2 linked regions of the Homo sapiens genome follow. The protein of the gene in region 1 purifies or fractionates together with the protein of each later gene. This does not show direct contact. Each region holds a gene or a part of one and is shown on either strand. Other genes may lie near its edges.

Region 1 (4,492 bases):
AGCTGGCGTTGACCAGGTCCACTAGACGGCCCTGGTCCAGCTTGTCCAGGCTGCGCACCCGTAGCATTCGCTCGGCGTTCTTGAACAGGGTCCCGGACCCTGGAGGAGGATGGGGAGGGGCTAGTCTGGCTGGAGGGCCGTTTGCGCAGCCTGGTGGGGACTGCAGGTAGGACAGGCGCTGGTGGGACAATTTCCGTCTTTGGGAGACCTCCACAGTGAAATGATTTCAGTGGTCTGCATAGATTTGTCTGTGATTTTCATTCAAGGAGATGCTTTCCCCAGGCAGAGATTGTGCCCCAAGTTCCTCCTGTCGCCTGGAGCCCCACCCACTTCCGTTAGTCTTGCCTCGCTCCTTGAAGTCTGTCTCCCGCCGCTGACCCGGCCCACCCACCTAAGCCCCGCCCATCTCTCCCGGTCGAACACCTCCCTTATGGTCCCGCCCCTGGCCCCGCCCACCGGGGGGCCCCTCCTTCTCCCCCCTAGTCCCGCCCATTCCTTTAATTCCTTCGGAGTTCCCTTCCAGTACACTGGGTCTCCTCCTCTCTCACCTCCCCCGGGTTTCGGCAGCAGCAGGAGCCATTGCTGTGACACCCCCCGCCTCCCCCTACGGCTCCTGGACAGGAGGAGAAGCCGCTCCTCCTGACCGCAGACACCCAGCCCCGGCCAGTACTCACTCCCGGGACCCAGTCCCCGGCCCGCCCACCGCCCTCACCCTTGTTGCTAAAGAGCTCAGTGAGCAGCGTGCTAGCGGCGGTGATGACGGCCGAGGAGTGGTGGGGCAGGCGGCTGAGCACGTCCACGATGAGCCGCATCTGCTGCCGTTCTTTTGTGCTCACCCACTCGGCGTTGCACACCAGGTCCAGGTCGGCGGGCAGGTTCACGTTACTCAGGACCTGTGTCCGGAGTCAGCGGGTGAGCCTGGCCCACAGCCGGCACGGACTGCCCCCCTACCCCCACGGACCTCTCTTTTCTCTGACCCCTTTATCCTTACTTCCGCCCGGAGTCCTTAGCCAGGGAGGGCGCAGATCTGGGCACCCAGGGCTGAACTCCTCCCCTATACTCCCTTAGGCTTTTCTACCCACCCGGCTTGCTAGTGAGTCTGCGGCCCGTCGGGGAGAAGTGCGAGGGGCGCAAGAGAAGGCCCGGATCGCCGGCGTGGGGGAAGGTGAAAGAAAGGGCCGCACCTTATGACTGCTGTCGCGCAGGCCGCCTGTGTTATTGAGGAAGATGATTTTGGTGGGCCGCAGCGCCTTGGCCAGCGACGCGGTCACCTCCAGGGAGTCGAGAAGCACGGAGCGGCGCGCGGCCGTCTCCCCGATGGGGCACAGGATGGGGATGCTGCCCGACTCCAGGCACCACTGCAGCAGGTCTGTCTCCACCGAGACGATGCCGCCGTAGCTGTGGGCCAGACGTGGTGCTCGAGAGGGCCCCCTCCAGGCCTGCCGGACGGGGCAGGGCGGGCAGAGTAGCACGCTCTGAGGACGCCTGGGCGGGCAGGGCGGGCACTCACCTGGCATGGGGAGCCGGCTCGGCAGCGCGTAGCACAGACCCGCCGCCAAAAAATGGCACAGCAGCGGCGGCGTTGTGTCGAAGCGCGTCTACCAGCACCTTGCAGCTCTTGGCCAGCTGCGCCTTGGCCTCCCAGAAGGAAAGACAGCCCGAGGGAGCCGTAGGGGCCGGCAGCCCCAGGACCACCAGCGGCTTCATGTCCATGCGCTGCAAGAAGGCCAGGGCAAAGGCCAGACTGGATACGCCCTGCTGGCACTTGAGCACCTCCTCGTCCACCTGCGGAGGAGTGGGCTTTCAAGGAGCGTGACACGGACCTGAGCCGCTGGCTCCCACAGCCTGGCCTGCAGGGCCGTCTCGGTGACCCTACCCTTCCAGAAGCTGTCAGGACCCAGTTCTGGCCACCAGTGCCCACCTGCTCCGCCCTTTGCCCCGTTGGGTCTTGCCACTCCCTTGTCTCACGCTGGGGTACCTCCCGCCCTCCTCCCTCCGACCTTGGACTCCGGGACATCTTTGGGGGAGGGGCAGTGCAAGCGGCTCCTGTCCAGGTCCTTCTGAACCCCTAACTGCGCCCATGTTGGGGGCCTTCTTCAGAGCATCACACCTGGCGGGTGGGGTCCCCCAGGATCCTCACTCGGGCTGGGCGGGAGGCTTCCGGAGGAGCTTACGGCCTCTCCCATTCCCGGCGGCGCTGGTCTGGGCCCTGCCGGGCTCCTTCCCGCTTCCGCTGCGCAGAGCCCGCAGCGTATCCTGCCATGCCTGAGGACAGGTGGCCGCACAACCCCATCCCCTCGCTGCGTCACGGCCCACGCCGGGCTCCGCTCACCTCGATGACGGCGAAGGGCTTGTCCGCGGAGTGATGGCAGGTCTGGAACTGCGTGAGCCAGTGGCGCGCCTCCCCAGGGCTGGCCCCGCACTGGTTCAGGAAGGCCTGGATGTCCCGCTGCACCAGCGAGCGGCCCGAAGGAGGCTCTGGGGACTCGTGGGGCACCGGGGGCCTGGGACTCGGCACCCACGACGGCTCCTCGGCGACGGGCGACTGGGAGACGTCGTCCGCGCCCGCGTACTCCTCGGGCGGGGGCTGGGGCTGCGACCAGGCGGTGCTGAGCCGGCGCCCCGGGCTGGTGCCCCTCGCCGCCCGCCGCCGCGCGCCACAGCTCAGCCTTCGGGCGCCCCCAGTGCCTCCCCGGCCTCTCAGCCTCGGGGCTACAGCAGCTGCCCGCAGAACCACAGCCATCAGCGCCGTCGCCATGACGACAACCAACTCTTGCCCCCCAAGAGTGGCAGTCTGTCTGGAGCGTCTGGCACTGGGGGGCTCTTAACTTGCCGTTGGGCGGGGCTGGACCTGGTCGGGGCGGGGTCCGGACAGGGGACCAGGAGTCTCCTCTGGGTGCGTTTGAGGAGGGTCAGGCCATGAGTCAGGGGGCGGGGCCACTAGGCTCCCCCGCCCCTGGAGGAACTGAACCCACTATCGGTCATGGGGCCGAGACTAAATGTGGCGGGTTGTCTTTAATCTGCTGCCAAGGTAGGTTCCAGGGGCGGCTTTGGGAGTCTGCAGGGCCTTGGATGATTGGCATTCTGACCAGAGAAGAAGGGACTGTAGGTGGCTTTGAGCACAGGGCTGGGCAGGGGGCTGGAAGGAGGGCGCTGGAAAGAGTAGAAGAAGGGGGGCAGTGGGAGGGCGGGGGCGGGTGGTGCTGGCCTTGTCTGTCCTGTTGCCTGAGCTCAAAAAAGATCCTAATGAATGACCATGAGGTTACCAGGGTTTGCCAAACTCCAGTCACTGGGTACCAGCTTGAGGAATTCTGTGATATCCTCAAAACACCCCTCAAAACTTATAATACTTTAGTGTTAATGCTTTTCTTTATCGAATATCACATCTGGTAAAAATAAAATAAAATAGAGTTTTTTATTTTGGTTTTTGAGATAGGGTCTCACTCTGTTGTTGCCCAGGCTGCAGTACAGTGGTGCAATCATAGCTCACTGCAGCCTCCACCTCCCAGGTTCAAATGATCCTCCTGCCTCAGTCTCCCTAGTAGCTGGGACCACAAATGCACACCACCATGCCCAGCTGATTTAAAAAAAAATTATTTTTTTTGAAGACGGGTGTTCACCATGTTGCCCAGACTGTTCGTGAACTCCTGAGCTCAAGCAGTCCTCCCACTTCTGCCTCCCAAGGTGCTGGGATTACAGGTGTGAGCTACTTCACTCGACCTCTGTAACCCTTTTTTTTTTTTTTTTTTTTGTTTGTTTGTTTGTTTGAGATGGAGTCCCACCCTATTGCCCAGGCTGGAGTGCAGTGTTGCGATCTCGGCTCACTGTAATCCCCGCCTTCTGGGTTCAAGCGATTCTCCTGCCTCAGCCTCCTGAGTAGCAGGGATTACAGGCAGACACCATCACACCCGGCTAATCTTTGTATTTTTAGTAGAGACAGGGTTTCACCATGTTGGCCAGGATTGTCTCAAACTCCTGACCTCGTGATCCACCTGCCTCAGCCTCCCAAAGTGCTGGGATTACAGGCGTGAGCCACCACGCCCGGCCCTCTTTAACCTTTTTAAACTTAAAGTTTATCCATGTTAGGTCTGTAACTAGGCCAGTATCACTTGCCATAAGCCTTAAGAATCAAGTGAGGAGGCGGGTGGGTCATTTGAGGTCAGAAGTTCAAGACCAGCCTGGCCAACATGGTGAAACCCCATCTCTACTAAAAATACAAAAATTAGCCAGGCAGTAGTGGCATGTTTCTGTAATCCCAGCTACTCAGGAGGCCAGAGAATCACTTGAGCCTGGGAGGAGGAGATTGCGGTGAACTGAGACTGTGCCACTGCACTCCCGTCTGGGCGACAGAATGAGACCCTGTCTCAAAAAAATTAAAATTAAAATTAAAATCAAAATTAAAAAAGAATCAAGTGAGAGGAAAACAATGTTATTACATTCCATTATATTCCATCTGCATAGCTTGCCTGCTTTCTTGGTAACATGGAAGGTT
Region 2 (3,805 bases), on another chromosome or scaffold:
CACCTTTCAGGTTCAAGCGATTATCCTGCCTCAGCCTCTCAAGTAGCTAGCATCACAGGCATGCACCACCATGCCTGGCTAATTTCGCATTTTTAGTAAAGGCGGAGTTTCTACATGTTGGTCAGCCTGGTCTCGAACTTCCAATCTCAGGTGAACTGCCCGGCTCGGCCTCCCAAAATGTTGGGATTATAGGCATGAGCCACTGTGCTCAGCACCCTTATTCTTAAGTTAGTTTGGTTCTCTAAGGTTCCCAGGGCTGGCAGCCTCACTGAAGTAGAAATCTTTGTATTGTTCCTACCCAAAGACTGGTTTTTCTTTTCTTTCTTTCTTTCTTTTAGAAACAGGGTCTTGCTCTGTCACCCAGGCTGGAGTGCAGTGGTGAAATTGTAGCTCACTGCAGCCTCAAACTCCTGGGCTCAAGTGATCCTCCTGCCTCAGCCTCCCGAGTAGCAAGGACTACAGATGCATGTCACTAACCTGGCTAATTTTTTTTTTTTAATTTTTTGTAGAGATGGGGTCTCACTATGCTGCCCAGATAGTCTCGAACTCCTGGTTTTAAGTGATCCTCCCCTTAAGGGCTGGTTTTCAATCTGTCGGTAACTGGCTATTACAAAACAACCCAGGCAGCAGGATGAGTAGCAACTTGCTGGCCACAGGTCTACTTACAGGCACTTTCCTGCCTCCCTATGAAGGTTGTGAGTATAAATCTTGGCTGGATGCAGTGGTTCGTGCCTGTTAACCCCAGCACTTTGGGAGGCTGAGGCAGGCGGATCACTTGAGTCCAGGAATTTGAGACCAGCCTGGCCAACAAGGCAAAACCCCATCTTTAGAAGATATACAAAAAATTAGCTGGGTGTGGTGGTGCATGCCTGTAGTCCCAGCTACTTGGGAGTCTGAAGTGGGAGGACTGCTTGAGCCTGGGAGGTGGAGCACAGAGGTGGAGTGCAGTGAGCCGAGATCGCATCACTGCACTCCAGTCTGGAAGACAGAGTGAGACCCTGTCTCAAAAACAAACAAACAAAACTATGTATTCACAGCATACAGCATGATGTTTTAAATGTATGTATATACTACAAAATGATTAAGTCGAGCTAATTAACAGAATTTTTCATAAAGCCATTGCTGTGATAACTAATAGCTAATATTATAGAATATTTTAAATATTTTATAGAATATGCATTAAAATATTTTAATACTTCAAGTTTATTATAAATTTTAAATAGCAATATCTTAATATTACCATTTTAAGTTATTATATTTGATATGTTAATAGTATTACATACTAATATTTAATAATATTTTAATAGTATTTTTAAATAACATCTTCATTTTACTATTCAGCTCTTTTCGTAACAGCTCCTATTTACTGAGCACTTACTATGTGCTGCCAGGCACTACGGAAAGCGCTTCACCTTCTCATCCCAGGGAGTTCCTGCAGCGACCTTGTAAGGTTGCTGCCCTTATTCCTGCTTTAGAGATGAGGAAACTCGAGTGTCAAGTTACACGCCCAAGCTGCCCTGGGACACTGCTTGTGAACCCAGGAGAGTGATTCCAAGGTTGCAGCCCTTAGAACAATGATGGCTGCCTGGTCCTGTGCCCATCTGTTGGGTGGCCCTGGTCTCTCTGTGGTGCTTCATTACACCATCTCCTCACCCATCAGCACCTTAACTCCAGCTGAGCCCTCAGGTTTCTTCAGATGGACTCGTGCTCCAGCCCCTCAGAGGGCACATCCCTGCTGCCTGCCTTCCCCAAACGTACCCATGATCCTGCGAATGGGGTCATCGGGACTGGCCACGGCCTGGATCTGGCCCTTGAGCACGGTCTCCTTGTCCGTGGTGAAGGGAGAGGACCCACACAGGGAGAGGCAGCTGCTCACCTCCAGGCACACCTTCTCCCCGATGGTAGTGAGGACGTCCTTCAGATGGAAGGAGCTGGGGCAGAGGAGGGGAGAAAGGGCCTATAAGTAAAATACACCTCTAACCAGCTCCAACCGCCCACACCCGGGTGAGAATGACGGCACCAATAACTGGATTTGTGTGTTCAAGGGACAATTTGAGACTCTTTTCCCTGCCACCTTACCTCTCAGGCTGTGCATACCTGACCAGGGGGACTTTCTTTCTCTCCCTCTGCTAGAAAGGACAGTGGGAAGGGCAGGGGCTCAGAGTATACCAGGACCAACGACCCAAAGCACAACTTCCTGCTAGCCTCTGTGTGATAAAATCAGCCTGGAATGACCTCAGAATATCTTGATATACCTCTGGAGGAATACACAAGAAAGCAGGCATTTGGTAGCTGTGGGACAAGAGGGAGAGAGAAACTCTTCATTGGATGCCCTTTTGTACCTTTTGATTTTTGAAACATACACATGTATTAACTAATTTTAAAAGAATAAAGAGGCCGGGCTCAGTGGCTCACGCCTATAATCCCAGAACTTTGGGAGGCCAAGGCAGATGGATCAGGAGTTCTAGGTCAGGAGTTCAAGACCAGCCTGGCCAACATGGTGAAACCCCATCTCTACTAAAAATACAAAAAGATTAGCTGGGCATGGTGATAGGTGCCTGTAATCCCAGCTACTCAGGAGACTGTGGTAGGAGAATCACTTGAATCCAGGAAGTGGACGCCGAGATCACGTCATTGCACTCCAGCCTGGGCAACAAGAGTGAAACTCCATCACAAAAAAATAAAAAAATATATAAAAATTAAAAAATTTTTAAAAAATAAAAGAATAACGAAAAGTGAAATCCTAAAGTTAAAAAAAAAGAGTACCTGGATACCCTGGGTCCCCCAGGCTCTCCCAGGGTGCCTGTGGGGAGCCCCCATGCTGGCAGGCATGCTGTGAGAAGGTAACTGCCTCTGTTGTGGGTCTAGATCCTTTGTATGTAGAATTACTGGGGGGCATGGGAGCAAGCCCTGGCACTCACCATTGGCACCAGCTCTGTGCCCACCCCTGGAGGACCAGGGAGGATATGGGAGTGCAAGGCTGGGCTCCCAAGAAAGCACTGACCTGGATCCCACCCTCAGCGGGAGCTTTGACAGAGTAGTTCTCCAGGCAGGGGACCTAGGTGACAGCCCAGAGCTGTACCTGTGCAAAGGCCTCAGGCTAGGCCCTCAGCTGAGCAAACAAGTTTCCTGGCCTCTCAGCAAACTAGTTTGACTGTCAAAACTGTTGAGGCCCTAGTCACAACTTACGGACACGCCCCACACTGCACTGAACACAGCCATGCTTTGTGAAAATTCAGCAGTAAAATTCCTCCATTTTGTAAGGATGAGAATGTTTAGGGGGTACTTCCCTTGAAGAAGTCTCTGAATTGGACCTTGTTAGATAGAGCATTTACTTAGAACCACTCAAAGATATTCTATAGGCTGGAAACCATAGAAGTCACCCAACATGACTCCATGGTAGGAGCGGTCACTGAAGCCTGCACGCGTGCAGATGCGGACTCGTGCTGGGTAAGAAAATGATGCATTACACTGAGCACAGAACGCCTACAGGGAACAAGCAAGGGCAGAACACTTCAACCACATACATGCAGCTCTGCAGGAATATAGCTGGTTTCTCTCATGACCTTCCTCTAGGGCTCTGCTTTTCACTGTTAGTCGGTTATGAAAGCAATTCAGTGGGTAGCAACCAATTTTTTTTTTTAATGGAATAAGAATAGAGTAGAAACAATCAGGCTGCATTAAACACAGTTAGGGTCAGTTCCAGTTTGAGAAGTTTTCGTTTCTGTTACACGTGTGTTAAGTGTGTACTAGGTCACAATGGAAAATGAATTTCTTACTGCAGGTCCTAGTCACAAACATTTTT

What was found.
Region 2: the proteins of NAGS (region 1) and TCP11L1 purify together in Homo sapiens (affinity purification with mass spectrometry; one large-scale study listed by BioGRID and IntAct). This does not show direct contact.

The regions. Positions count from the first base shown.
Region 1 is NC_000017.11:44,002,930-44,007,421, reverse strand, and holds the start of NAGS (N-acetylglutamate synthase, mitochondrial), read right to left. Parts: upstream 2,801-4,492; 5' UTR 2,759-2,800; coding exon 2,333-2,758; exon of another isoform or gene 2,111-2,332; intron 1,786-2,110; coding exon 1,511-1,785; intron 1,399-1,510; coding exon 1,185-1,398; intron 894-1,184; coding exon 713-893; intron 100-712; coding exon 1-99. UniProt on the Homo sapiens protein: Plays a role in the regulation of ureagenesis by producing the essential cofactor N-acetylglutamate (NAG), thus modulating carbamoylphosphate synthase I (CPS1) activity.
Region 2 is NC_000011.10:33,066,813-33,070,617, reverse strand, and holds part of TCP11L1 (T-complex protein 11-like protein 1), read right to left. Parts: intron 1,932-3,805; coding exon 1,759-1,931; intron 1-1,758.